4 linked regions of the Homo sapiens genome follow. The protein of the gene in region 4 purifies or fractionates together with the protein of the main gene of each other region. This does not show direct contact. Each region holds a gene or a part of one and is shown on either strand. Other genes may lie near its edges. The genes, in order: DCAF10, FASTKD2, MRPL39 and TRUB2.

What was found.
Region 1: the proteins of TRUB2 (region 4) and DCAF10 purify together in Homo sapiens (affinity purification with mass spectrometry; 3 studies listed by BioGRID and IntAct, with this or other methods). This does not show direct contact.
Region 2: the proteins of TRUB2 (region 4) and FASTKD2 purify together in Homo sapiens (affinity purification with mass spectrometry; 3 studies listed by BioGRID and IntAct, with this or other methods). This does not show direct contact.
Region 3: the proteins of TRUB2 (region 4) and MRPL39 purify together in Homo sapiens (affinity purification with mass spectrometry; 3 studies listed by BioGRID and IntAct, with this or other methods). This does not show direct contact.

Annotation. Positions count from the first base shown.
Region 1 is NC_000009.12:37,859,794-37,866,816, forward strand, and holds part of DCAF10 (DDB1- and CUL4-associated factor 10), read left to right. Parts: intron 1-254; coding exon 255-400; intron 401-834; coding exon of another isoform or gene 835-867; exon of another isoform or gene 868-1,007; intron 1,008-1,346; coding exon 1,347-1,715; 3' UTR 1,716-7,023. UniProt on the Homo sapiens protein: May function as a substrate receptor for CUL4-DDB1 E3 ubiquitin-protein ligase complex.
Region 2 is NC_000002.12:206,782,602-206,789,624, forward strand, and holds part of FASTKD2 (FAST kinase domain-containing protein 2, mitochondrial), read left to right. Parts: intron 1-632; exon of another isoform or gene 633-707; intron 708-4,131; coding exon 4,132-4,298; intron 4,299-5,335; coding exon 5,336-5,554; intron 5,555-6,217; coding exon 6,218-6,302; intron 6,303-7,023. UniProt on the Homo sapiens protein: Plays an important role in assembly of the mitochondrial large ribosomal subunit.
Region 3 is NC_000021.9:25,604,461-25,611,935, reverse strand, and holds the start of MRPL39 (large ribosomal subunit protein mL39), read left to right. Parts: upstream 1-4,454; 5' UTR 4,455-4,460; coding exon 4,461-4,533; intron 4,534-5,280; coding exon 5,281-5,487; intron 5,488-7,475.
Region 4 is NC_000009.12:128,319,425-128,327,134, forward strand, and holds the start of TRUB2 (pseudouridylate synthase TRUB2, mitochondrial), read right to left. Parts: upstream 3,024-7,710; 5' UTR 2,985-3,023; coding exon 2,876-2,984; intron 2,795-2,875; exon of another isoform or gene 2,432-2,794; intron 2,307-2,431; coding exon 2,175-2,306; intron 1-2,174. Other genes in the region: ubiquinone biosynthesis protein COQ4 homolog, mitochondrial isoform 1 precursor, read left to right, coding at 3,435-3,504, 3,592-3,723, 5,719-5,815, 6,355-6,457. UniProt on the Homo sapiens protein: Minor enzyme contributing to the isomerization of uridine to pseudouridine (pseudouridylation) of specific mitochondrial mRNAs (mt-mRNAs) such as COXI and COXIII mt-mRNAs.

The sequences.
Region 1 (7,023 bases), about 90 Mb from region 4:
CTTAGGTCAGTGACAATTACTGCTGTGGGAACTTGGATCTTTTGTTCTATTTATACCCTTTCCCCACACCTTCACCCCGCCAAAACTCACACACCATACATTGGGGAGTACCACGCTCTTTAACATATGGTAGCATAAGGGGCAGACTAAGGAATGACGGCATGGGAGGTGGCTGCCAGAAATAAAAAGCTTTGATGAACTGCCTTAGTTTTTTGATAATACAAATCCCACATCCTCATTTTCTTATATCTCAGGAGTTTCACCACGAAATAGTCTTGAAGTCGTAACCCCTGAAGTTCTTGGTGAGAGTGACCACGGAAACTGCATCACGTCCTTACAGCTGCACCCAAAAGGCTGGGCCACTCTTCTTCGGTGCTCAAGCAACAGTGATGATGAGGAGGTACAGGCAGCAGCACTCCACCTTCAACAGGGCTCATTGGACAAATTGCCATTGCCGTGTGTGCAGAGCTTAGGCCGATCGCTGACTGCAGTCTCTGCCTTCAAGGGCATACTGCTAGAGATCCTGCTTCTCGACTCTCCTGTTTCTGTCCTCTCTTGCTTCATATGGTATCATTATCCCTTCCAAACTCTTCTTATTCCTCTCCTGCTGGGGTTGAGCAAGGTGGGAGGTACTTTAAAGGCCAGCATCAGCTCAGTTTTTGCCCAGCTTCTTAAATCTTGCCTCTTTCATCTCACCCTAAACAAACAAACAAACAAACAAACAAAAACCCCTTGTATAATAAACATAGGTCTGAAATGTTTCAGCTAAGCTGGCTAAATGTGAGATTTTACTAAGCCAATTGAGTATCATAATTTTCTTTTTTTAAAAACCAGGGGAAACTCTGGGAAAGGAAGGGACTATACTGATGACTAGGGGGAAAGGTGTTAAATGACTTTATGATTCTCATCACTCTGGAAAGCAAGAGTCTTCCAAGGATCTCACTGGTCCTAGAGGCCACAACTGAAAGGAGAGAAGAGAAGAGCCTTTGAATTGTGTAGGGGAAGAGGTAAGATACTCTAGGGCTTGGATGTACTCCAGGAATTTTTAAAATATCAACATTGTTGTTGCCCTTAGAAAAGAGAATGTATTACTGCAAAAGTCACAGGCAGCCTCAGGGAACAAAAGGCTTTAAAGCATCATAACACAGAATAACCTCAGCTTATGAAGATAAGAAAGTAGGGGGCCTACAAGTTTTGTTAGTTGGGAGGGGGATAGCATTATTCTGAGTGATTTCTTGTAAAAATTCTGTGGCTTTGGCAATCTGTTGAGCTTTTTAAAAATAAGGAATATCTGTAGCACTATTTGGGCTCTGTAACCTTGGTTTGTCTCCCTTCTCTCCCCCTAGTGTACTTGTGTCTATGAATTCCAAGAAGGAGCTCCAGTGCGACCTGTCTCACCTCGCTGTTCTCTACGACTGACTCATTACATTGAAGAAGCCAATGTAGGCAGGGGTTACATCAAAGAACTTTGCTTCAGCCCCGATGGACGAATGATTTCTTCCCCACATGGCTATGGGATTCGCTTGTTGGGATTTGACAAACAGTGCAGTGAACTTGTTGACTGCTTGCCCAAAGAAGCCAGTCCCCTGCGGGTGATCCGTTCTCTGTACTCTCATAATGATGTGGTACTGACAACAAAGTTCTCTCCAACACATTGTCAGATTGCCTCAGGGTGCCTTAGTGGACGGGTTTCTTTGTATCAGCCAAAGTTTTAGGCACAACTTACATCAAATAAGGAACTCTTCTGGTGTTTGACTTAGGAATTGCTTCAATTTAGATGAAGTATTTTCTTTTTAGAAGATCTTATAAGTTTGGGTCAAGATCCTGGTTCTTATGGGTCCATGAACACACTTGTGACCTTAGTACTTGGTCATCCAGCATCATACAGGCATCTCCAAGTTAGACTCTATGCAGCATCATCTTTTGCAGCATTCCTCTGCTCCTGCTGATCTGTGCCACTGAACTCCAGTTCTTCTGGTCATTTTGCATGGTAGCTCTTGTCACGTTCCTTCCTTCCTCACTCTCTATTTCTCTTTCCCTCTCCCTGTCCCTCTCTTTCTTTGTGTTTGTTGATTTTGGTGTCAATTTTGTGGACATTTGGCAGGAGTTTTGACTGGGGTAGGAGAAACCCATGACATTAGAATTGAATAAAACCTAGAAGTTGGATATTGGCATATTGGTTGTTGAAAAATAAATTTCATCCTCACTTATGAGTATACTTGGCCTTTTAAAGTTACTGTTATGTTTATCTATATTGAGCACAGATAATGGCATTATTCTTATAATTGTTAAGATAGTCTTGCAACAAAATGTCTTTTAAGTTTCCTGTTAAAATTATAAAAAGATTTTCATGGTGAGAGGGATTTTATTGTGAAATTCTAGAAAAAAATATTACCACCTCTCTTTGTAATTTACTTTACTTGTATGAATTTAACATCTCTAGCATGTATCCTTACTTGATATTTTGTTCCTATCAACAGCATTAGAAAGGAAAGGAGACAGAATGAGCTTTGGTTATTTCTATTGCACAGAAAAGGATTTTTAAAATTAGATTAGTATAATATCTGGCCATAGAGTGATAAGAACAATATGACTTAGATTTTCTGTATTTCATCTGCCAGATTATTTGAATCACACAGGATGATGTGTTAACAGTATTAGGGTGGAAGAGGAATCAAGAGTAAAGAGGTAGGGGTTTACTCATTTTTCTTCCCTGAGCCAGGTGTGACAAGCCAACTCTGTCACCATTCGTGAGGGGAGAGTTGCAGTCCTCTTCAAGCTGTTATCATAAGTACAGTAGTCAGCTACTTGGATATCAAGACTAAGTGCTGATATGAAGACTTGCCTTTGTGTTTTGTTATGAAACACGCAAGCATAAAGCAGGACTCAAGCACAAGGCTGACTGTTCTACTTTGAATAACAGCTTCCTTGCAGTCTCCTCCACATGGGTGGTACTGTGTTTAGAAGGGATTACCAAAGGCTGGAGCGATTTAAGCTATGCACTAGCCTTGCCCTCTTAGGTTGCATTCTCTTTAGGCCACTGGTTCTCAAACATTAGGGTGCACTGTAACCATTACAGAGCTTGTGAAAAGTGCAGAAACCTGAGCCTCACCTTATGAGATTCTGATTCAGCCAGGGGGAGGACAGGAATCTGTATTTTTCATAGCAACCTCAAGTAATCTTTATTCTGAGGGTCTCGGGATTGCAGGTTGAAAAACACAACCTTAATCAGCAGTAAATTCTTCTCTACTCGGCCAGGCGCAGTGGCTCATGCCTGTAATCCCAGCACTTTGGGAGGCCGAGGTGGGTGGATCACAAGGTCAGGAGTTCGAGACCAGCCTGACCAACATGGTGAAACGCCATCTCTACTAAAAATACAAAAATTAGCCGGGCGTGGTGGTGCTCACCTGTAATCCCAGCTACCCAGGAGGCTGAGGCAAGAGAATCACTTGAACCCGGGAGGCAGAGGGTGCAGTAAGCCGAGATTGCACCACTGCACTCCAGCCTAGGCGACAGAGCGAGACTCTGTCTCAAAAAAAAAAAAAAAAAAAAAAAATTCTTCTCTACCCATTTGGGCTTAAGACAATTCCCAGAAAGTGTTTTCATTATTTAAAAAATAATAATAGTAAATGAAAGCAATTTTAGAGGTGGAAAATACCTTAGAATGGAATCATTTGCATTATTTGACAAATGAGAGAAGTGACATGACTTGCCTAAGGTCATCCTGCAAAGTTAGTGGCAGAGTTAGGACTTGAATTCCAGTCTTCTAATTCCTTGGTCAGGGCAATTTCTACTGTGTTATGCTGTCTGTTAGAAATAATGACTTATGGACACTTTGTCTTTAAGTTGTATTATTGTAAATACCCTTAAACTGGCCAATAGATTTTAGAAAGGCAGGCATGGGAGTAGATGCTGAGAATTCTAGCCATAAGAAGAAAAGTATTTTAAATCTTACAGAAATGTTTAAACAACCCAAAATACATGAATAAAAATGACATTTCTTTGTAGGACCTGCCAACTAACTATTCACACACATTTATAGAGGTTATAAGGATCTTGGCTCTAGAACAAATTTTTGAAATTAGATCATTTTACCATGGATGTTAACAAAATTGGAAATTTTTTGTCACTGAGAAAATTATCACAAAGCACAGTAAATACATATACTTACCATACATTTTGTAAAAAACACATTTTTTAAAGAAAATAGGGATGGGTATGGTGGCTCACGTCTGTAATCCCAGCACTTTGGGAGGCCAAGGTGGGAGGTTCACTTGAGCCCAGGAGTTCCAGACCAGTCTGGGCAACATGGCGAAACCCCATCTCTACCAAAAATACAAAAATTAGATGGGCATGTTGGTACACGCCTGTAGTCCTAGCTACTCAGGAGGCTGAGGTGGGAGGATGGTTTGAGCCTGGGAGGCAGAGGCTGCAGTGAGCCAAGATTGCACTATTGCACTCCACCCTGGGCAATAGAGCCAGATCCTGTCTCAAAAAATAAAAATAGACTGGGCATGGTGGCTCATGCCTGTAATCCCAGCACTTTGGGAGGCTGAGGTGGGTGGATCACTTGAGGTCAGGAGTTTGAGAACAGCCTAGCCAACATGGTGAAACCCTGTCTCTACCAAAAATACAAAAATCATAGCCAAGCGTGGTGGCAGGTGCCTGTAATCCCAGCTACTCAGGAGGCTGAGGCAGGAGACTCGCATGAACCTGGGAGGCAGAGGTTGCAGTGAGCCGAGATCGCACCACTGTACTCTAGCCTGACCAGCAGAGCGAGACTCTGCCTCAAAAAAAAAAAAAAAAATAAAATAAAATAAAATTAGTTTTGGAGGTGAAAACACCCAAACTGTTATTATTTAAAAATACCTACCAAGTACTGTGGTCATATTGACATTCAAAAGAAGTTTCATAAATCGTATCAACTCTGGAAAGAGTTCATGTCAGATGCTAGACCAGCAAGTTACCCAACTCAAAATTCAGCCAATGATTCTTTACTATAGAGTACCTATCATGTGTCAAATAATATACAGACTTCACTACTAACCCTCACAAAAACTTGCAGGGTAGGTGGAATGAGCCCCAATTTAATTTGGAGGTAATAGTGGGTCAGAAAGATTAAATGACTTGCCTTAAGTCATAGAGTTAGCAGTGAGTGGCAGCACTGGGATTCAAACCCAGGTTTGTGTCTTGTCCAAAGCCTGTGCTTACTGCTTTACCATTGTGCTCTTTAGTTTGTAAAGTATGGTAAGCTGGCCTGTTATTTGTTTAGTATCTTCTGGATTTTTTTTTTTTAATTATAGAGCTAGCTTACCGTGTGTATCATGTAAAAAAAATTCATAAGATTAACAATTTCCATGAGAATATCATAAACTCAGGGCACACATTCTGGCCATTCCTGACTAAAAAACTTCAAGCAGAATAAGCAGCTATAAAATAGAAAAGAAAAATTAAGGATAAACGGCATTGTGAAAAAAAACCGAGCCACACAGATGAGAATTAAAAATTAACAGCCAGCAAACTCAAAAGAACCTTTGTCCTCCTTGAGATATGGTGATGATCAAAAAGTTAGCAAGGAATATTAATCAAGGAATTAAAGGGCATTAGGAATGCTATAGTATTGGAAGAAATTACATCTTAACATTTCAAAGCCCCATTTCACTTAAGAGTAAAATCTAATCTGATGTTTTTTACTCTGAATTTTATTCAGTAATTTTTATTCATAATTCATGATAATTGGTAATGTAGTATAATTGTTAGTAAATGCAGTACAAATTGTTCTACTGTTTTAAAAAGTTTTCCGCAGAACAGTGCATTTATGGCAATGCTATGTTTAATGAGTTAGGGACATCAAATATATAGTAGTTCCTTATTTTCAGTTGTGAAAATGAAATGGCTAAAGCAGAAGAGACGTCTATTTTAGTCTTTTAAAAATGTGTGTGGGTGGTCTTTTTTCCTCAGAAGCCCAAAGCACATGTATATTTTGTTATTTCTCCTTGCTATATTCCTGAGACTATACTAAAAACTTTAAGAAAAGGAACAAGAAAAAGGTAAATTCATGTGTTCCCCACTGCTGTGTCTAGAACCAAGATCACATTATATCATTGTTAAAATTGTGTTATCTAGAAAGTGCAATATAGGGAAAACACTCTAAGAATCTTTTAAAAGCCTAGTGTTTCCCTTATTTGTCAGAATATGTGGTAGTGGCATCCATAAGTATCTTTTAACTTGCATTTAGCAGGACAAATAGTGTGATACTTATACTGATGACAATCATCCCCATTTAATGACCAGCAGTCACTGAGCGCTGTGAAAATTCACTCAGTGATACCCCGTGTTGGTCTTGAAGGAAACCGTACATATGAATTTTTGGATAGCTAATGTATATCTCTCAAGTGCCAACATTTAAAACTTGTAATTATTTTTGATGTGAGTATTTCAGGTATGTTAGTATACCTTCCTGCCTTCTTCTTAAACATCATGCTCAGTATAATTCACATTTTCATGATGAAAAGTTAAAGTTATATTCATAATGTATTATTATAAGTATCCAGCTCTGATGTATGTAAAACACTTCATAAAATGTAAAGGGCTATAACAAATATGTTATAAAGTGATTCTCTCAGCCCTGAGGTATACAGAATCATTTGCCTCAGACTGCTGTTGGATTTTAAAATTTTTAAAATATCTGCTAAGTAATTTGCTATGTCTTCTCCCACACTATCAATATGCCTGCTTCTAACAGGCTCCCCACTTTCTTCTAATGTGCTGTTATGAGCTTTGGACATGAGATAACCGTGCCTGTTCAGAGTGTCTACAGTAAGAGCTGGACAAACTCTGGGGGGACACAGTCTTTGAGACAGCTCTTTTGGTTGCTTTCCACTTTTCTGAAAGGTTCACAGTAACCTTCTAGATAATAGAAACTCCCAGTTAAAGCCTAGGCTAGCAATTTTTTTTAGTTGCAACTAAGTAAGATATACTACAAACTAAGGATGCTGCTAGACTAAGGAATAAACAGCAAGG
Region 2 (7,023 bases), on a different chromosome or scaffold from region 4:
GGATCAGTCAGGGTTCATTAAAAATCAGAAAAGCATATAAAATGTCATTTGTTAAAACAGTGATTAAAAGCATGGACTCTAGAGCTAGCTTGCTTAGGTTTGAGTTTCAGCATTGCCATTTGTTAGCTGCTTGACTTTTGGCAAATTACTTATCTGTGCCTCAGTTTATTCACTTATTAAAATGGAGATGAGCTATGTCTAATCTCATTGGGTTGTTATTAGAATTAAATGAGTTAATCTATGTCAAGTTCTTATGACAATGCCCAGCACATAGTAATTTTTAGATTTGAAAAAAATTAGAGTGTAGGTCACAGAGGCCTTGGGGGAACAAACTAGGGCAGTTGTGAAGGTCTCAGTGGCAAGATGCACAGGCCATCTGTTTGCCATCAAATGACTTGACTCCAGCTGCTTGCTTTCCTTTTAGTTTTCCCTCCAGATTTAGATTTCTGAAAGAGAACATCTGATTGACTGAGTTTGAGTCAAATGCCCATCCCTTAGGGGCAGTTAATCAATTAAGTGGTGTCAGGCCAACTAAAAAGCAGCTTCCCACTGTACTGTCCACTGAATGGACAGACTCAGCTCATACTGCATTTCCTGTGTCTTCCCTAATTGTCACCGTCAGAGTCCCTGTGCTTGTCATGTCTTACCCAGTCTCCGGTGCAGCCTTGACAACAGGCTGCACCGGAGACTGGGTAAGACATGACAAGTTGTGTCACATCATTTGTTGTGTCAGTAAGTCTGTCTCTGCTCCTCAGTTGGTAAGCTCTCCGGAGTCCGACCCAGCTGCCTGTTTTTCTGAACTTAGTACAGGACCTGCCAAAGAGTAGACATTTAATAAAGGTCGAAAAATATCTCCCAAATTCAATCTTCCTTTACTCCCCTGGCTTCATTTTCTTCTGAGGCTGGCTCCCATTGATGCCTTGTACTTTCTAGACAAATAATATCAAGCTAAGTGGTAATTAAAACTCCAGAAACAGCCCCAGAGGGATTAAGAGAGTAAGTACTGGGCGGGTAAGAGTTTTTCAGGTGACTCCAGGCAACCTGAGAGATAACTTGTTCCAACAAAATTGTTACATTGAAAATAGAGGGGGGATAACAAAGGTAACAAAGGCTGGGAGGACATTTAATAAAATGGCAGTAGTAGAATTAGTACAGGAGGAGAATCATGAATGTTGTCTTTTTGTCTGTCTATTCTGCTTTCATTTAACCTAGTGGTTTTCAAACAGGGATGATTTTGCCTCCCAGGGGACATTTGGCAAGGTATGGAGATGGTTTTTAGTTGCCACAACAGGAGGGAGGTCTGTGCTACTGGCCTCTAGTGGACAGAGGCCAGGGGTGCCGCTAACATCCTACTATGCAGAAGATAGCCCCTCACAATAAGGAATTATCCAGCCCCGGATGTTAGTAGTGCTGAGATTGAGAAACCCTTACCTAATTCTAAGCCTCCCACCTCAACATTTCTCCAAAGGAGAAGTAGGGGCAATATGGCAGATATAGCAAGATTAATTAGTCACCATTTCCTGAATGCCCATGAATGTACAATTGCCTGGATTTGGTATTTTGAAGGCTATAAAAAAAGAAGTTTGTATTCCCTGCTCTTCCTAGACCATTTATGAGAACAACTCTGTTGTATATCCAGAGGAAGGCAGTACATGGTAGGCACCAAGTAAGTGCTTTATGGAGGAAGGAGAAAGGAAGATGGCAACTTATCTGGAGTAGCAAAGGTTTTGGAAGCAGAATAACTCAAAGTATTTGGGAAGAGAGTTGACTAGAAGAGATGGTTAGATAGGAGAGTGGTAGGAATTCTGGCTTATTGTATACCCACATGCTATACATTAATCATTATTTCATTTATGATGGCCCATCGGGGAGAGGGTGTTAAATCCAGAGTATCTTGCTGGGCTTTGAACCCAAGGAACAAATATGTAACGTTTAAGCTCTGTTGTTTTGGTCCTTTGGTTTCTTCTCTTCTTGATCTGTATTTACCACCTTATGGATAATCCCACATTTGCATCTGTGGTCATTAGTGTGCTCCTTAACTCCAGACCTGAGTCTCTGTGGGTTGCATATGGTCACTGCACATCCCAGAAGTGTCTCAAGTTCAGTAATTCTGGAAGTCAGCTATTTTTCTTGACTCATCGTTTTCCAATGACAAGCTCGTCCTCCTGTCTTCCTCATCAAAGTTTATTTGTTCGTTTAGTCAGCATTTGCCAAGCACCTGGACACTTAGGAGAAAGATGAATAAGACAGTCCTTCTTGCCAGAGGATTCTGTGTAATGGGTAAGGTAGATATGTAAATTGGCAGTTAAATATAGCATGAAAATTCGAGTGATCTAGCATATTAGTCTGTTTTCACGCAGCTGATAAAGACATACCCGAGACTGGGCACTTTACAAAAGAAAGAGGTTTAATGGACTCACAGTTCCACATGGCTGGGGAGGCCCCACAATCATGGCAGAAGATGAAAGGCACATCTCACAGGGCAGCAGACAAGAGAGACAGCCAAGCAAAAGGGGTTTCCCCTTATAAAACTATCAGATCTCGTGAGACTTATTGACTACCACAAGAAGAGTATGGGGGAAACCACCCCCATGATTCAGCTATCTACCACTGGGTCCCTCACAACACAAGGGAATTATAGGAGCTACAATTCAAAATGAGATTTGGGTGGGGACACAGCCAAACCATATCATCTAGGATATTTGGAAATAGAGGAAGGATATATCAGGATGCCAGCCTGGTGAAGAGGAGGGTCAGGGGATATCAGGCAGTGTTGCCTGGAGGGGTTGGTATCTGAGCTGATCTTAAAAGATGGAGAGATGGGGTTTTACCATGGAAAGATAAGCAGGAAAGAACATTCCAAGTGAAAGGCCCTCTATATGCAAGACCTGGAGGAAAGAAACAGCAGAGCACATGCAGGGAACAGCACACAGTTTGGGCTGCTGAAGCATGAGGTACAGGGTGAGGAGTGGGGCAAGAGAAGACCAGAGGGGGGATCATTACCCAGGCTCCCAACTTCCTTGTCCACACCATCCCCTGCCCCCGCATCCCACTGCATGTTCCAAAAGCAGTCAGTACTAATTTCAGACGTGCTGCCTTGCTATTGCGTATATGATCTGTTATATTCCTCCCATTTCATCATAATTCCTATCGTTTTCCTGGCCTTATCACAGCCCTTCATCCTCCCCAACACTTCTTCCCCTACCCATGGACCTCTCAGTTGATTTCAGTCTCATTGTTAACAAGGGCTTGTGTCCAGGCATATTTGCCCCAGCTGTTAAGAAACACTCCTCTGTACCTTCATCTCACCAGTTATTCACTATCAGGCAAGTAGCATGTGCTTTCAGGGCTGTGCTCAAATCTTCTTCCCTTATTCCATCTTTTCCACTTATTCAAATTCTCCTCCCAAAAGCTTCTGTTTATTTTCTTTCCTCTGCGAGATCACAGTACTTTGCATGTATTTCTTTTTTTATATAACTATATGTATCATATGCCCTGAGAATCAGATTGACGTGTGTTCAAAGGGTATCTACCATTTATTAGTGGTGTCACTCTGGGCAAGCGACTGCCCCTGATTTTGATCTTTTCTGTCTTCATTTGTGCTTAACCACGTTATACTGTGTACCATTAGCTGTGGGTGGTAGGATTAGGCTTGCAGTTCTTTTAACCCATAGTATTGATAACTAGATAATTTTAGTTGGTTATAAAACTGTAGTGGTGGTCCAGGCGTTATAGAAAATCTAGCATAATTATGAAAAGGTTCTGGAGCCTGACACCTTATGTTCTAATACTGCCTTTGCTACTTCCTTGTCTGTGTGTTCTTAGACAAGTTACTCAATCTCTAAGCCTGTTTACCCATTTTTTTAAATGAGGAGAATAATAGTAATACCCATGGAGTTTTTTAGTGTGAGTTAAATGAGTTAAAGTCTATAAAATGTTTGTCTCGTGCAAGACATACAGCAATAGCCAACATTTATTGAATGTATACACTTATTATGAGATAACCAACTGTCCAGAATGATGTGTGGATACTTACTTGCAAGGCTGATTTTCTTATCTCTTTTCTTTGGAATCGTTACAGATATTGGCCTTCTGTATATGTTGGGAAACTGACTTTTCTTTGTTCCCCAGACAGTTCGTGGAAGTTATGGCTAGTGCTCTGACTGGTTATCTTCACACTATTTCTTCTGAAAACTTATTGGATGCAGTATATTCATTTTGCTTGATGAATTACTTTCCCCTGGCTCCTTTTAATCAGCTTCTGCAAAAAGACATCATCAGTGAGCTGCTGACATCAGGTAGGATGTTAGTGCAGAATTGGTCACCAATTGTGACCAATTCTGCACTACCACTAGCTACCATATGACTCTGAATGGGGTCTTAGTTGGAGCAGTGTTAGTTGAAATTTGCAGAGCAGGTGTTGCTGTGGAAAGGGCTGATAATGGTGAAGTCAAAGGATAGTGCTTCAAAGCAGCAAACCTACAGACCCTTCTTTAATGACAAGTCCTACATGTAGAAAAAAATAAGGAATGCATCATTATTCCTTTTATTTATACTCTATCCTTCTATACAAAGGCTAACTGTTCAGGCTGTTCTTTATGCTTTGATCAGAGCTGTTTTAATTCCTAATCCTTACTTATCACATTTGAAGCCAACCTAAGTCAATTTTTGCAGCTGTAAACACTTGGTCACTCCTGGCCTGTGATGAGGGAACACCTGTTAGATCAAGAAACCAAATAGCCACCAAATTAATTAGTTCATTTACTCTTGGAACCAAATTAACTGTTGACTTTTAGTCTTTAGTATTAAATAAGGCAAAGCAATATTCAGGTAGATGTACAAAATTTGACGATGTGTCTGAGAATAGAGTAGTTCAGAATTAAAACATAAATAAATAAATGTTATAAAATCCCAAAGTTGAGTTGTAGAGAGTCAGTCAATAATACCACGTGCTGGTTTTTCAGGCAGTGTAATAATGGAGAAACAGCCTTGAACCTTGGAAACCTGGATTCTAGTTCCAACTTTGCCTTAATTACGAGGCTTTTTAACTTTCCTGGGCATTTCCTTATCCATAAATTGAGGAGTTTAGACTAAATGACCTCTAAAGATATTTGAAGCCTTAAAACATTATCAAGTGCAGGGCTTTGATTTAGACCCTGTGGAAACCAGGGAGACAAAGAGAGAGTCCTTGTGATAAGAAAGAGATAATTAGAAATACAAGTGCATTTATGTATATATTTATTATTTTATAACTATTACTAAATATATACTAATATAGTTTTTTAATGTTGCATTTATTTCTTCTTAATGATATACTCTCTTTTTCATCTTTTAGATGACATGAAGAATGCTTACAAGCTGCATACTTTGGATACTTGTCTAAAACTTGATGATACTGTCTATCTGAGGGACATAGCCTTGTCACTCCCACAGCTGCCGCGGGAGCTGCCATCGTCACATACAAATGCAAAGGTGGCAGAGGTGCTGAGCAGCCTTCTGGGAGGTGAAGGACACTTCTCAAAGGATGTGCACTTGCCACACAATTATCATATTGGTATGGGACATTATATGATTTCCTTTCATTTTATTGTATTTATTTTCCTTTTTTTCTGACCAAAAAAATAGGTATTTGTGGCAGCAGTTTAGTGTAGTGCAGCATTGCCTCTGGAACTGGCCTGATTCTTGCCTCATAAAATTCTTGTGACCAATAAATGAAATTCTACACATTTTTATGTGTCTAAAATCCCAAGACTAGTATCTGACACATGGTTAGCTCTCAATATATTTTAGCTACTGCTATTATCATTATTGGTAGTACTATTAAACATTTTGAAACAGAAAATCACTTGGGGCTGGTCACGGTGGCACACGCCTGTAATCCTAGCATGTGGAGAGGCCGAGGCAGGTGGATCACTGGAGCTCAGGAGTTCAAGACCAGCCTGACCAAATGGTAAAATCCTGTCTCTACCAAAAAAATACAAAACTTAGATGGGCGTGATGGCATGCCCCTGTAGTCCCAGCTACTCAACAGGGTGGGGTAAAAGGATTGCTTGAACCTGGGAAGTTGCTGCAGTGAGCTGAGATCACACTACTGCACTCCAGCCTGGATGACAGAGCGAGACCACATCTCAAAAAAAAAAAAAAAAAGGAAAAGAAAAGAAAAAGAAAGTCACTTGGAGGAATGTTTGAAAAATTAATATCAATTCTTTCCTTTCAGATTTTGAAATCAGAATGGACACTAACAGGAATCAAGTGCTACCACTTTCTGATGTGGATACAACTTCTGCTACAGATATTCAAAGGTTGCTTACATATATTTCATTTGCTGGGCTTTCTGAATTAAAATCCTAATTCTAAAAGACTTCATATTAAATAGCAGTAGTAAATCTAAGACTTGATGTTTGTATGGAGCCTGCAGCACACCAAGAGACTTGTCATCCATCAATGTACTCCTTAGAAAGTGTAAATGTGGACGTTATGGTTGAATACAATGGACTACAGTATTGGTCATTTAATGAGACAGACATTTTTTTAAAATTAGGTTTTGAAGCTATAGTTCAATAAAACAATATTAATATAATTGAAACTATCAATGCAGTGTAGACTTTGGACAAGATAATATAATAGTGATCATAAAGAATAAAGACTCGAGGCTTCTACAAAAATCAAATACCCAATAAATATTTTGCTCTACCACCAAGACTTTTCCAGAGGTAGAGAAACCGTAGTTTTTTAATTAAACTGTATTTGTATGGGTTAGAGCACATTGAAGCTAATCCTAAGTTGTTTCTTTGGCTCACACATTACAAATAGAGTGTCTCTGGGGAGAAATATGATGCTATACCATGAGAGAACATCCTGCCTCTTCAGTAGATGCATAAGATCATGCCATCATTGCACACACCCGTGGGTCAGTTACCCTTTATGTAAAAGCTCTGCTACATGGATCCTGACCCCAAGGAACTTGTATCTTCTGTTAACTCCACTGGACACACACACACACATAAATATGATAGAAACATA
Region 3 (7,475 bases), on a different chromosome or scaffold from region 4:
TAAAATGCATGTCAAATGCTTCTGCAATTATTTGATTCCCAAAATACAGCTTATTTGTATGCTTCCTAGACCTTCAATTACAGGCAGTGTAACTGACCCAGGGCCCCAGCTGCTGAACTCTGAAATAACATGTTTGCTTTGAGGCAAACATGCTTCCTGCTTCCCAGGGGCTGCTCCCAGCCAAAGACTGAGCACAGTGGGGACACTGAGGCATGCCCACTTTGGCTTTGGGGATTTACCTAATGATCTTGCTGAAACTTTATTAGACTGCACTGGTGGTCAAGAATGCGTTCATTCAATTTTCCTTCCTTCTCTTCTTCACATGGAGTCAGCCTTACCTGGCCACCTTCCCCTTTTCCCTTACAAACATTTCTCCTAACGATTTCCTTGCATACTTACCTCTGTCTTGGTATCTGTTCTTCAGAGTATCTGGACTAACACAAACTGATTAAAAGTACAGCTTTGTGAGGCACAGAACCATATGTTTGGTATCTTGCATGTTGGGTCAGTAGGAGGAACATAAGATAGAGGTTATGTTCCTCTATCTTATGGGGATACTGATAGAGGCATAATAATGGGGTAGCTGATAGAGGCATCAAGAACTCTCAACAGTGGTATCCTGTGTGGGGTTTTGGTAAGAACTTGTGAATCAAGAAAAGAACTGAGAGTGAAACTTTTCCTTAGGCACCTTTACATTAAAAGACAAAATTTCCCAACAAGTAAATGTATAATGATTTGAAAATGTAAAATCAAATATTTGGATTTAAAAAGCGTATGAATTTGAGAACAAAGAAAGTATAGGGTTTGGAGACAGCCAGATCTGAGTTTAAGCCCCAGATAATCTTTGCGATCTTGGGAAAATTACTGTGTTACTGGATTTTTTTTTTTTTCTTTTGGAACAGGATCTCACTCTGTCATTTAGGCCAGAGTGCAGTGGTGCAATCACAGCTCACTACAGCCTCGACTTCCTGGGCTCAGGTGATTCTCCCACCTCAGCCTCCCAAGTACCACCACACCCAGCTGATTTTTTGTATTTGTTTTGTAGAGACAGGGTTTTGCCATGTTATCCAGACTGGTCTCCATCTCCTGAGCTCAAAGGAGCTGCTCACTTCAGCCACTCTACAGTGCTGGGATTACAAGAGTGAGCCATGAAACCTGGCGTTGTTATTGAATCTTGATTCCAGTGATTTGCATTCCTCCTTGAATGTGAAGTATATAACCTCATTTACTGGCTCCCTGCAGGAGGCATCCTACTTGATTGACATTGGTCTTGACCAGGGGACTTGCTGGGGCCAGGGGACTGTGTGGCTGAGACACAGGTGAGTCTGAACAGAAGCTCTTAAGAGCCAGTGCACAAGGTGGTTAACTGCATTCTTTTCCCTCTGCCACAAGAAGCACAAGACCAAGTAGGGGCTGCTTCTATGGCCTGGATTCTGGAATAAAGTTGCAGAGCCGCAATTGGCTGGTAGCTGCCATCACTGACAGCCAACATAAGCAAAATAAACTTTCATGGTTGAAAACCACTGAAGTTATTCTCCAAAGTTTTGATGTTGAAACATTTCAGAATAAAGTTGAAGGAGTAGTTCAACTAAAATCCTCACTTAGATTCTCTAATTGTTAACATTTTGCCACATTTGCTAAATTTGTCTTGTTCCCTCCCTCAATATTAGAGCTCCCTGTTTTTGCTGAAACATTTGGGAGTTTGTTATAGGCATAGTGATATTTGGTTCCTAAATATTTTAATATATATATCTTAAGAATAAGGATTATTTCCTATATGACCATGACACTATTATTGTATCCAAGAAGTATAACATTGATATAATATTATTTAGTATACAGTTCAAGTTTCTCTGTCACAATAACATTCTTTGTAAATTTTTTTTCCTGATCCAAAACCTAGCGAGGATCATGCATTGATAATAACTGTATATTTCTTTAGTCTCCTTTAATTTAGGACAGTTTATTAACTATTTGGGGGTTCATCTTTCATAAAACTTACATTTTTGAAGAGTTTAGGTCAGTTGTTTTGTAGAATATATCACTTTTTGGATATACCTGATTTCCTCATAATTCTTTAGATTCAGGTTAAATATTTATGTTAGGAATACTCCATAGATAATATTGTTTATATCACAACCAAGAAGCACAAATAATGTCAGATTGTCTCATTTTGGGTGATGATAAGTTTGACCACTTGATGATGATATCCACCAGATTTCTCCATTGAAAAGTTTCACTTATCCATTTGTATTTTGTCAGTAATATGTGAGGTGATACTTAGAGACTATGTGACTATATCCCTGATCCTCAACAAACTTTCTCTACTGATTTTAGCATCTATTGACGATCCCTTCCTGTACCAATGGTTACATTGGTAGATGCAGAATGGTGATTTTCCCTATTCTATTATTCCTATGACTTTTATTATCTGGCATTCTTTTGTACAGAAAACTCTCTTCACTCTTTCTACACTGATTTATTCTTGAGTGTCATTACGGATTCATGAATTTTTAATATACATGTCATAATATTTCAGCATTATTCTTTTTGTTATGCAAACTCTCCCAAATTTGGACAGCGGGAGGACCTTCGAGCTTGGTCCGCCGTCCTTTTTAACATGTTTCTGTTTGTCTGTATTTTATAGTTAGTTGTAGGCTTTCTGGCACAGTAATGATCCAGGCTTATCTTAGATATTTACTGTTACAGACTTGATACTTTTTATTTGGCAGAGACATTGACAGAGTGAGACTAAGATTTGGGGAGCTGGTTGATAAAGAAGGCAAGATAAAGAAGATTCAGAGTAAGAAAATATTTGGGGGGAATTCTTGGCCAAAGATTTACCTCGGGTATGTCTCTCAAGCTCTTAAAACCTGAATTTCTTTTCCTGGAATATGAAGATTATTATGCCAATTGCTCAGGTAGGTTGTGAAAATTAATAAACCAAGCCCTATGATTGGCACATAGTATTTTTTGGCCATTATCACTAGTGACAACCTTTCAACTAGGTTAATTTCTCATACCGGTGAACTCCAATTACCTGCCTCCAATGGGTTTGTGATCAAACTTGCTTAAGTTTATGTTCAGAGGCTTTGCTTAAATGTGGCTCTAAGATGTTCTAAGGGCACTAGAGTGTTTCTAGGTAAGGTTAAATGGGTACAGGCTCTAAAAGGCCGATGAAACAGACAGCTTTCATGGGAACTGTATGCAAATTTGAGGAAGCAAAAGATACACCCGCCCTCCAACACTATATGTATATATGTACATTTCGTGGTTTGAATTAGGATCTTAAATGAAATGTAGCCTGGTAAAATGTAGACTGGATGTAAATCCAAGCTCCGTCACTTACATTTCCCATTTTAAAAAGTGAAGATACTTACACTTTCCTGGCGCAGTGGTTGTGAGTGTAACATTTGGGCCAAGGAGACGGTCGATCTATCGTGGCGCAGGGTCATATTTGTACCTTAGGCGGCACTTCCACCTGGTGGCGGCGCATTCCAATTGCAAGGCAAAGGACAGAGTGGGGGAAAGGCTGAATTCGACACCCTTAAGTAAAGCCACAGAATTAAACTACTGTAAATGAAAATATTTCCATCCTGTACCTACAGAGTGCTTACTTCAAATAACACTCACGTCCTGGTAGGACAGAAAAATTAGACAATGAGCTGAAGTTTGCCTGCAAGGGCATTCATTCATTCATTCATTCAAGAAACATCTGTTGAGCGCTGACTGCGCTGTGCTCTGTTCTGGGCGCTTGGGATACATCAGTGAACTAGAGACAAAAATTCTGCCCCGGGATGCCTTCTCCTATACATCCTATACTATATAAACTAAACTAGAAAATTTGTAAAGAGCTCTTAGGAATTACAACGTCCTCTCCAAAGTCAAGGGGACGTGTTCCGAGGCCTCTATTACCACAGCTAAGGGGAGAACCGGGGTGCAGACCCACTCCAGCCGAACTAAGAACCTACCCGGCACAATTGAAAGTTAAGCCACGCGCTAGAGGATGTCATCGCTGACAAAATAGAAGACGCCTTCCCCATTCCCCCCCACCCCCGCCCCCGCCAAGAAAACCATATATTCTTTTAGGGAAGCAAGCGCTTCACCTGGGTGGCCGGGATCGAACCCGCGGAGGGCTGAAGGCGGAGGGCAACGACGCCTGTGGAACTCTGTTTCCCTGCAGAGCCTACGTGGTGGGCGGCAGGCCGACCGCCCTGGGGGCCCTGCACCTCTGGGTAGGTGACCGCGCCCAGGTATCGAGCACAGGTAACGCGCCCCGGCTCCGAGTCTCGGGGTCTCAGCCACTGAATCCCCAGCGAGGCCTGACGCCCCCCGGTGGAGGCGAGCAGTCTGAGTGCTGGGTCCGGAACAGACCTGTCCTGCGGAACTCCGAGTGCGCGTTCGGTTTCCGGGGGAGGAGGGCGGAGAAGGACTTGCGCGCGACGGTTCTCACCGCTGCTATGGAGGCGCTGGCCATGGGTTCCCGGGCGCTGCGGCTCTGGCTGGTCGCACCCGGTGGCGGGATCAAATGGAGTGAGTTTCAGAGGCCGTAGGGACAGGGAGCGAGGCCTAGATAGTGGTGTCTGTCTAGATTGGGTCTGAGGCGGGGCCGGGGAGGTCCCGCGGGGCAGAGGAAGGAGGAGGGTTTCTTAGTCCCTCCGCGGCGGTCGCTCTTGCACAGCTTGGGAGGACTAATTTATGGGAACGAGGGTCTGGCGGAGGGCAGGGGCAAGGGCAGGGGTCGGGGCCAGGGGTCGGAGCCAGGCCGCGGGAGGAGCTTGGGCCCGCCTCTGGGAAGCAGCGCACGTTCCGTGCACATCTGTCCATGTCTTCCCAAGGAATACTCGTACTTGCCTTGGCAGGTTCCCTGATTTGGCCTTTGGGATATAAACTCAGCATTTCTCATTCTGGATATTGATAGTTTCGGTGTGGGACCTTTGGTTTCCTGAAATTTTCTTGTTTTTCTTCAGACCCTGTCAAACCGACCACTTTGTTCACCTTCCCAATGACTCTAGTCCAGTTTTGACTCCGTTTCCTGGTTACTTTTTGCCCCTTATTGTAAAGCACTGATTGGAAACACGACACAGGAAATTGGTGGGAAATAGCGATCTGATGTGAAAGAGCCAAATTTAAAAGTAGAGGCACGTATCTGGGCCAGCTCTGTTTCTTCCGCTGGTGTTTGTTAATATTACAAATTGGTTTAATTTTACCTCTGAGCGCACTTTTGGCAGTACGTTAATCATTTTTTCAGTCTTCATATTTATTGTAACTTCTCCACAGGATTTATAGCAACATCGTCAGCTTCTCAGCTGTCACCGACAGAATTGACAGAAATGCGGAATGATCTCTTTAATAAAGAGAAAGCCAGGCAGTTATCATTAACTCCCCGAACTGAGAAGATAGAAGTTAAGCATGTTGGGAAAACTGACCCCGGTACTGTCTTCGTGATGAATAAAAACATTTCAACTCCCTACAGTTGTGCCATGCGTAAGTAGCAGAATCAGGTTACAGTTTTGACCCTTTTACTTAAGCTGTGTGGAAGCACTGGTGCAGGAGACAGGATGCTGTAATTACTTCTGGTCATCTGTGGCCATGGCAATCCCTTTATACCAAAATCCTTTCTTGAGACCTGCATGGTGACTGCTCCCACCACATCACAGACCTAGCTAAAAAGAGCAAGCAAATCCCAGCTACTTGGGAGGCTGAAGCAGGAGGATAGCTTGAGGCCAGAAGTTCAAGACCAGCCTGGGCACCATAGCCACCCTGTCTCTCAAAAAATAAAAATAGAAATAAATTAGCCAGATGTGGTGGGCGCAGAAGTCCCTGGACTTCCCAGAGGTTCTTTATCTGGCACCTTATTGTCTATTCACTGTCCCTGTAGTTCTGGAGGGTACTCTGAGTATTGCAAGGTTGGCACTGTAGTGCACAGATTGTCCTGCCTGGCGCTTGTTTGAATCTGGCTTTGTTTATGGTACTAGATAATTTTCTGGCAGAAGGTGACCAGACCTGAGTGCATTGTTACTAGTGTGCTTTCTCCTTTAATTTAATTTAATTTTAGAGATGAGGGTCTGGCCCTGCTCCCAGGCTGGAGTGTAGTGGTACTATCATAGCTCACTGAAACTCCTAGCCTCAGCCTACGAAGTAGCTGGGACTACAGGTGCCCACCATCACACCTGGCTAATTTATTTTTATTTTTGAGAGAGAGGGTGGCTGTGGTGCCCAGGCTGGTCTTGAACTTCTGACCTCAAGCTCTCCTCCTGCTTCAGCCTCCCAAGTAGCTGGAATTTGCTTGCTCCTTTTAGCTAGGGCTGTGATGTGGTGGGAGGAGTCACCGTGCAGGTCTCAAGAAAGGATTTTGGTGTAAAGGGATTGCCATGGCCTCAGATGATCAGCTTTTTTTTGCCGCCTTTTTCTTTCTCCCCTCTTCATTGTATAGCCTAACTTAATCTATCATCTGCTTTCCACTTGGCTCTCTCTGTGTTGTATTTTTGTTGACATTTAGATGTACATGTGGTAAATGTGTGAGTGGGAATGTGCATGGGGTGAATGTGATTGGGGTAAAAGTATTTATGTATATCTTAAAGGAGACAACTGTGCCCCATGTGTGATTTTGTGTGGAAATGAAGGGAATAAGAACTTCTATATTTTATTTTTGATCAAAATGTTTTGATAGTACGTTTGATAGAACTGGTAATATTTAAATTAAAGAAGCCCCAAAACAGATACAGGCATGACTAGCTGCATTGCTTAAACTTTTGGAAAACTCAGTAACCATTCCATTTAAGTAATTAACAACTTTAGTTATCAGCTTAAACTGGCCTAGAGAGTCTACACTCACTCTTAATCTTCCTTCACTCTGGCATTTGAATTAGTACTTATAAATATTTACTCATTTGGTTTTCAAGTATTTCTGGAACCTCTGCGATATGATAGGCATTAGGACTACAGAGGAGGATAAGACAAAACTCAGGCCCTTAAGGAGCTTTATACACATCACATGTAGTGATGAAGCTTCTGAAGCATCCTCAGCATGACCCCTGCAATGAGACGTTCTTGTCATTCATGCTTGCAGTCATTCAGTAAACTGTTATTGAACACCTGCTATATTCCAGGCCTGGTGCTAGACTCTGGATATACTGATGAGTGAGCAAAAGTAGACATGATCCCTGACTTTACGGGGTTTATGTAGTGGTTGATAATTTAGACCTTGTAGTTTGACTACTTTTGTGAGTAGCTGTGTAATTGCAGAACATCTAATTGGCATTAACAGTTGGCATTGCATTCTGGGATGATGAAACAGACCAGAGCTGATTGGCTTATCCGGGAGTTAATATTAATTATTAAAAAATGGTAACTACTGTATTTAACTTGAAGCATCTATGTCATGGAAATAAGAGATGGTTTGGGAGCAAGACCCAAAACCAATCTAGAACTGATTTTTGTAGGTGTGTATTAATATATTTCCCTTTTACTTT
Region 4 (7,710 bases):
AGGTTTCAGTGAGCCGAGATCTCACCACTGCCCTCCAGCCTGGGTGACAGAGTGAGACCCTGTCTCTAAATAAATAGAATACTACAGTTGTCCCTTGGTATCCAAGGGGATTGGGTCCAGGATCCCTTGCAGATACCAAAATTTGTAGATGTTCAAGTCCCTGATATAAAATGGCATAGTATTTGCATATAACCTAGGCATGTCGTCCCATATACCTTTTTTTTTTTTTTTTGAGGCAGAGTCTCACTCTTTCACCCAGGCTGGAGTGCAGTGGCACGATCATGGCTCACCACAACCTCTGCCTCCCAGGTTCGTGCGACTCCTCGTAACTCAGCCTCCTGAGTAGCTGGGATTACAGGTACGTGCTATCATGCCCAGCTAATTTTTACTAGAGACGGGGCTTTGCCATGTCTTGAACTCCTGACCTCAAGTGATCCGCCCACCTTGGCCTCCCAAAGTGCAGCGATTACAGGCGTGAGCCACCACACCTGGCCACTTTTTTTTTTTTTGAGACTGAGTCTCGCTGTGTCGCCCAGGCTGGAGTGCAGTGGCACGATCTCCGCTCACTGCAAGCTCCGCCTCCTGGGTTCACGCCATTCTCCTGCCTCAGCCTCTGGAGTAGCTGGGACTACAGGCGCCCACCACCACGCCCGGCTAATTTCTTTGTATTTTTAGTAGAGACAGGGTATCACCGTATTAGCCAGGATGGTCTCGATTTCCTGACCTCGTGATCCGCCCACCTCAGCCTCTTTATTTTTTTTGGAGACAGAGTCTCACTCTGTCACCCAGGCTGGAGTGCACTGGCACAGTCTCGGCTCACTGCAGCCTCTGAACTCCTGGGCTCAAGTGATTCTCCCACCTCAACCTCCCGAGTAGCTGGAACTACAGGCATATGCCACCCCACCTGGCTAATTTTTTTTTTTTTTTGAGACAGTTTCACTCTTATTGTCCAGGCTAGAGTGCAATGGCACAACCTAAGCTCACCGCAACCTCCGACTCCCGGGTTCAAGCAATTCTCCTGCCTCAGCCTCCTGAGAACCTGGGATTATAGGCATGTGCCACCACACCTGTCTAATTTTGTATTTTTAGTAGAGACGGGGTTTCTCCATGTTGGCCAGGCTGGTCTCGAACTCCCGACCTCAGGTGATCTGCTCGCCTCAGCCTCCCAAAGTGCTGGGATTACAGGTGTGAGCCACTGCACCCGGCCTTTTGTATTCTCTTGTAGAAGTAGGGTTTCCCCATGTTGCCCAGGCTGATGTTAAACTCCTAGGCTCAAGTAATCCACCGCCTCAGCTTCCCAAAGTGCTGGGATTACAAGCATGAGCCACCAGGCCTGGCCTTCCCATATATTTTAAATCATCTCTAGATTACCTTTTTTTTTTTGAGACGGAGTCTCGCTCTGTTGCCAGGCTGGCGTGCAGTGGCACAATTTCGGCTCACTGCAACCTCCGCCTCCCGGGTTCAAGTGATTCTCCTGCCTCAGCCTCCTGAGCAACTGGGACTACAGGCGCCTGCCACCACTCCCGGCTAATTTTTGTATTTTTAGTAGAGACGGGGTTTCACCATGTTGGCCAGGATGGTCTCGATCTCTTGACCTCATGATCCACCCTCCTCGGCCTCTCAAAATGCTGGGATTACAGGCGTGAGCCACCACGCCTAGCTAGATTACTTATAATGCCTAATATAATGCCTATGCATCACCTTGAGTGGATTCAACACAGTACTAGGTGCACAGCAAATTCAAGTTTTGCTTTTTGGAACTTTGTGTTTTTCTTCCCAAATACTGCCAATCTGAAGCTGGATCATGGGATGTGGAACTCATGGACTCAGAGGCAACTGTACTTAGTGACACGTGAAAATTACCTGAAGTTCAAATATGAATATTCATAAAGTTCTATTGGAATACAGCTAGGCTCATTCCTTTAGATACTGTCTATAGCTGTTTGGCACTACATTGGCAGAGTTGAGCAGTTCCAACGGAAATCACATGGCCTGAAAACTAAAACATTCAGTATCTGGCCCTTTCCAAGGAAATCTGCCAATTCCTGGTCTAATACCTCACTCCTCTGTGGACCTTCAAGGGCCTGGCACAGGAATCTGAGCACTGGGACACTGACTCGGCTCAGGGATTTCCTGGGAAGTGACACACAGGATCCTGCTTAAATCTGCCTTACCCAGTGGATGGTTGATGAAAGAGGGTACGCTGGTGGCTGTGAGGGTCAGCTCCTTCTCTTCGCTGCCTTCCATGGGGCCCAGCAAGAAGCGAACACGCTGTTTAGGAGCGGGAGGCTTCCTGGCATTGAGACCTGAACACACAGAGATAATATATACACACATACATACAAATATATGTACATATAAAATATTTTTTAAGAGACAGGGCCTCGTTCTGTAGCCCAGGCTGAAGTGCAATGGCGCCATCATAGCTCACTGTAACGTCAAACTCTTGGGCTCAAGCGATCCTCCTGCCTCAGCCTCCAGAGTAGCTGGGATTACAGGCGTGCACCACGATGCTGACCAGGAATATCTTGTTCTGTCCAAACACTTGGGGGATTAGACAACAGGGAAGTATGATGTAGAAGACAAAGCAGAAGCCCATGGTGCAGAGGGCAGTATAGCAGTAGTTAAGAAACAGGCGGATTCAAACAGACTCTACAACGTAGTAACCGTGTGACAAGGAACAATACTGAGTCAGTTTCCCCCTCGGAAAACAGAGGAAAGTGAGGAGTAAGAAAGCACAGAGAACAGGCGTTTGGGAAAGCGCTCTGCCCAGGTGAATAGGTCACGTGATTTTGTTTTGGGGTAAGGACCAGAAGCGGAGATGGACTTCCAAGAGAACGAGAGCGGGAACGTGGGTCTGGTTCGAGGCACTCACCCTTCAGAAGTTGTAGCTCCACTGTATCCCGCAGGTGCTTCCATTTTAGCCCCGGGGGCTTATAGACCGCGAAAAGCCCATGCAGCCGCGACAAGCCAGCAGACCCCATACTTGAAGATCACAGCACCCGCTGGACCTGGACGGAAGTACCGCCAGGCCCCGCCCCCAAATGTGGTCCTTTCCACGGGCGCCGCCATGTTCCACAGCCGGAAGAGGTTCGCATTTTATAGTCTTCGGGGAAAACCGGCTGTGGAGAAGGAAATAGGGCCCGGCGCTGAGTGAGCGTGGTTGCGTGTCCTTTGCAGACACTTTCTGGGGCGAGGTGACATGGCGAGAGTCTTGGATCGGTGGACGTAGACGGTAGACAGTTCGCGTGCGTTTCCTTCGCCTACTTGGCCTACATGCCTTCTGCCCGTGAAGCGATGTTTCCCCTCGAAAGGCCGTAGGCTACGCCGTCAGAATCGGTTTTTCAGTGAGTTTTGACCCCTCCGACGCTCCGTCGCCTGACAGAATCGCGGCGTTCTTCGTACCCGCCCATCCTCCGCGGACGCCCGCTGCCATGGCGACTCTGCTGCGCCCTGTCCTCCGTCGGCTCTGCGGGCTCCCGGGCCTACAGCGGCCTGCGGCAGGCAAGTGGCGCCGGGTTCTGGGCGCAGGCGGGAAGGAGCCTGAGGGCGCCCGGCTCCTCTGACCTCGGCCTTTTTCTTGCCCCGCAGAAATGCCCCTCCGGGCTAGGAGCGACGGCGCCGGCCCGCTATACTCGCACCACCTCCCCACCTCCCCGCTGCAGAAAGGGCTGTTGGCCGCCGGCTCCGCGGCGATGGCGCTCTATAACCCCTACCGCCACGGTAAGGCCGCCCGCGCCTCGCCCCCGTGGGGGCGGCTTGGAGCCGTTTCCTGTGGGTAACTGGAACATAGCCTAGGTCGGGGTACCCAAACCTGGTTGCAGCTCGTAACCACTCGGAACGTTTATGAAAATGCAGATTCCTGGATCCCACCTAAACGCACTGAATCTGAATCTGAATCTGCAGTGGAGGGAGAAATGGGCGTGAAACCGAAAGTCTGTCTTTAAACTACTTGGGAGAATCTGTCATGCAGCCATATTGAGAACATCTAGACTAAATAGATGATTCATAAGTACCGATCAGTTTATAATATCCTACTAGAAAGTCAACTCCGAGGTCGAGGACCATGTCTGCCTCGTTCCACTGCATCTGCAGCCTTCTGGATAGTGCCTGGCACATAGTAAATGCTCAATAAATGTTTGCTGGATGTGTGACTAGAACATTCTAGGGTTCTACAGTGTTTTTCTTATGCCTCCTAGATTTTTGAGTTCTGGGAAGTACTGTTATTCCTACTAACAAAAACAGGCTAGGCGCTATTATAGTGGCTCACGCCTATAATCCCTATCGGGGGGCCGAAGCGGGCAGATGGCTTGAGCTGAGGAGTTTGAAACCAGCCTGGGCAACACGGTGAATCCCCATCTCTACAAAAAAAAATACAAGAATTAATTGGGGCTGGTTGCATGCGGCTGTATTCCCAGGCTGAGGTGGAAGGACCATTTGAGCCGGGGAGTTCGAGACTGCAGTAAGTTGTGATTGCGCCATTGCACTCCAGCCTGGGCGACAGAGCGAGACCCTGTCTTAAACAAAAAATACACTATATCTCCATGTCCCCAGTGGTTTTTTGTTTGTTTTGTTTTGAGACACAGTATTGCTCTGTGGCCCACGCTGGAGTGCAGTGGCGCAATCTCAGCTCTATGCAACTTCCACCTCCCAGGTTCAAGCGATTCTCGTGCCTCAGCCTCCTGAGTAGCTGGGATTACAGGCCTGTGCGGCCTGGCTAATTGTTGTATTTTTAGTAGAGACGGGATTTTGCTATGTTGCCCAGGCTGGTCTCAAACTCCTGACTTCAGGTGATCCTCCCACCTCGGCCTCCCAAAGTGTTGGGATTACAGGCATGAGCCACCACGCCCGGCCAAGACCAGCGAATTTTTTAATTTTTTTGTAGAGACGGCGTCTTGCCACGTTGCCCAGGCTGCTCTGGAACTCTTGGCCTCAAGTGATCCTCCTGCCTCAGCCCCCCAGTGTTGAGATTACAGGTGTCAGCCGCTACACTTGGCCACTAAGTGTTATATATATATGATTTTCATGGTTTCTCACATTAACCAGCTAAGAAAGGTGTTGTCTGCACTTCACAAATTAAGACACTGAGGCTGAAAAATGTGAAGCAGGCCAGGCATGGTGGCTCACACCTGTAATCCCAGCAATTTGGGAATCCAAGGTGGGAGGATCACTTGGGGCCAAAGTTCAAGACCAGCCTGGGCAACATAGCAAGACCTCATCTCTACAGAAAATTTAAAAAACTAGCTGCATGCCTGTAGTCCTAGCAGTGAGCTATGATCACACCACTTCACTCCAGCCTGGGCAACAGAGCAAGACCCTGTCTCAAAAAAACAAAACAAAACAGAAATGTGAAGCAATTTGTACTAGGTCACCTAGATAGTGAACACACCTGGACTGTAGCCCAGCATCTCTGATGCCTAAGCCTCTACCAATCAATGGAGACATGATATTGTATTGTGAAAAGTGATTTATAAAATCTTTACAACGTTGTGCTAACTAGAGCTGTCCCGCCCCAGTAGATTAAGAATAAGAACTATAGATATGTATACTGATCCCTTGTTGTGTGCTGGGTAATTTGCTAAGTGTTTAGCCTGAATCCTTATAACAAAGAGCTAGACATCATCCCTAATTTATCCTGTAGGAAACAAAGGCTCAGACCAGGTCAGCTAACTTACCTAAGATGACATCCCCCATTTGTGCCCGTTTCTGTCCTTTCAGACATGGTCGCAGTTCTAGGGGAGACCACAGGACACCGCACCCTGAAGGTCCTCAGGGACCAGATGAGGAGGGATCCAGAGGGTGCCCAGATCCTGCAGTAGGTCCCAGCTCTGCCTGGGGGTCTGGGGGCATTCTCTAGGTATTCTGACCTCTCTAGAATCACATTGTGTTTGTTCTGTTCCGCTAGGGAGCTTTTGATACCCTGGCTACATATGGTTGCACAGGCTGGGCACTGCCCAATTCCAGGGGTGTCATTCACATACATGTGTATACACTGATGACTTCCGAGTTGTGCAGTGTGATAGCCTTGGCCCAGTTTCAACCACAGGGCTCTGTGCCTTCATTAAGTTCCCATAACATGTGCTGGCTTTACCCCTCCCTTGCAGTACCTTTTGCAAGTACTCTGGTCACATTCGAGGACTGTCTTCCTGCCGAGATTGTACCCCTGCCCATGTCCTTGGTTTGGGGTAGTATCCTAAGTCCCTGACACTAGCCTGGCCAGTTGTAGGTGCTCCATTAAGGCTTGTGGTGGCCACATTGCTCCTCTGTACATTCTCCCGCCCCTCAGCTCGCTGTAGTTGGATCGTTCACCTACCTTTGCCCACACCCTCCCAATGCCCAAGTCTTGCCTTTCAGGGAGCGTCCCCGGATTTCGACATCCACCCTCGACCTGGGCAAGCTCCAGAGCCTGCCGGAAGGCTCCCTCGGTCGCGAGTATCTCCGTTTCCTGGATGTGAACGTGAGTTTTCAGCTCCTGTGTATCTGGCAGTCACCAGACAGGACAGAGGAATAGCACAGGCATGACACCCTGAGGAAAGAGGAGCCCTGAGCTGCCACCATTGGCAGGAGTGCTCTTCAGGCTCATGCCAAGGCTTTGTCATTTTCTATGGGATAGGCAAATGGGTGGGAACATGCCTGCAATTGATAATACTGGCCAGTGTTCATTAACCTCGCACTGCATGCCTGATGCCAGCCTCATCCGTGATCTTGCTGAATCCCCCCACAACTCTGTCAAGTATGTTCTATTATTATCCTCTTTTAGCAGATAAGGAAACAGAGGCTCAGAGCAGTGAAGCAAACTTGCTAATTCCACATAACTGGTATTAATGGAGATAGTAATCAATCCCAGATCATGCTCTTCACTGCTGTACTGTATCCCTTTATTCCAGGGACATTGCTTTCCCTACGGTATGGCAGGTGTGGCACTCTCCAGCCCCTCCAGCCCCAGGCAGGGAGGACAAGGAGAGGGGGAAAGGGGGTGTCCCGACTATTGGCAAACTCATTCACTAACTGAGGCTCTGCTATGTGCCATCCCTTTTTTTTTTTGAGTCGCTCTGTCGCCCAGGCTAGAGTGCAGTGGTGCGATCTCTGCTCACTGCAAGCTCCGCCTCCCAGGTACACGCCATTCTCCTGCCTCAGCCTCCCGAGTAGCTGGGACTACAGGCGCCCGCCACGACGCCCGGCTAATTTTTTGTATTTTTTAGTAGAGACGGGGTTTCACCGTGCTAGCCAGGATGGTCTCGATCTCCTGACCACGTGATCCGCCCGCATCAGCCTCCCAAAGTGCTGGGATTACAGGCGTGAGCCACAGCGCCCGGCCCATCCTTTTTGTTTTGTTTTGTTTTGAGACAGGGTCCCGCTCTGCCACCCAGGCTGGAGTGCAGTGGCGCCGTCTCGGCTCACTGCAACTCAGCTTCCTGGGTTCAAGCGATTCTCCTGCCTCAACCCCCCACGTAGCTGGGACTACAGGTGCACACCACAACGCCCAGCTAATTTTTGTACTTTTAGTAGAGAGGGGTTTTACCATATTAACCAGGCTGGTCTTGAACTCCTGACCTCAAGTGATCCACCTGCCTCAGCCTCCCAAAATGCTGGGACTACAGGTGTGAGCCACCGTGCCCAGCCCAACCATTGTTTTGTGTACAGGGGATATAATGGTGAACTAGACAGCCAAGTTCCCTGCCCTCATTTCTATTCTACTTCGAGAGGTAG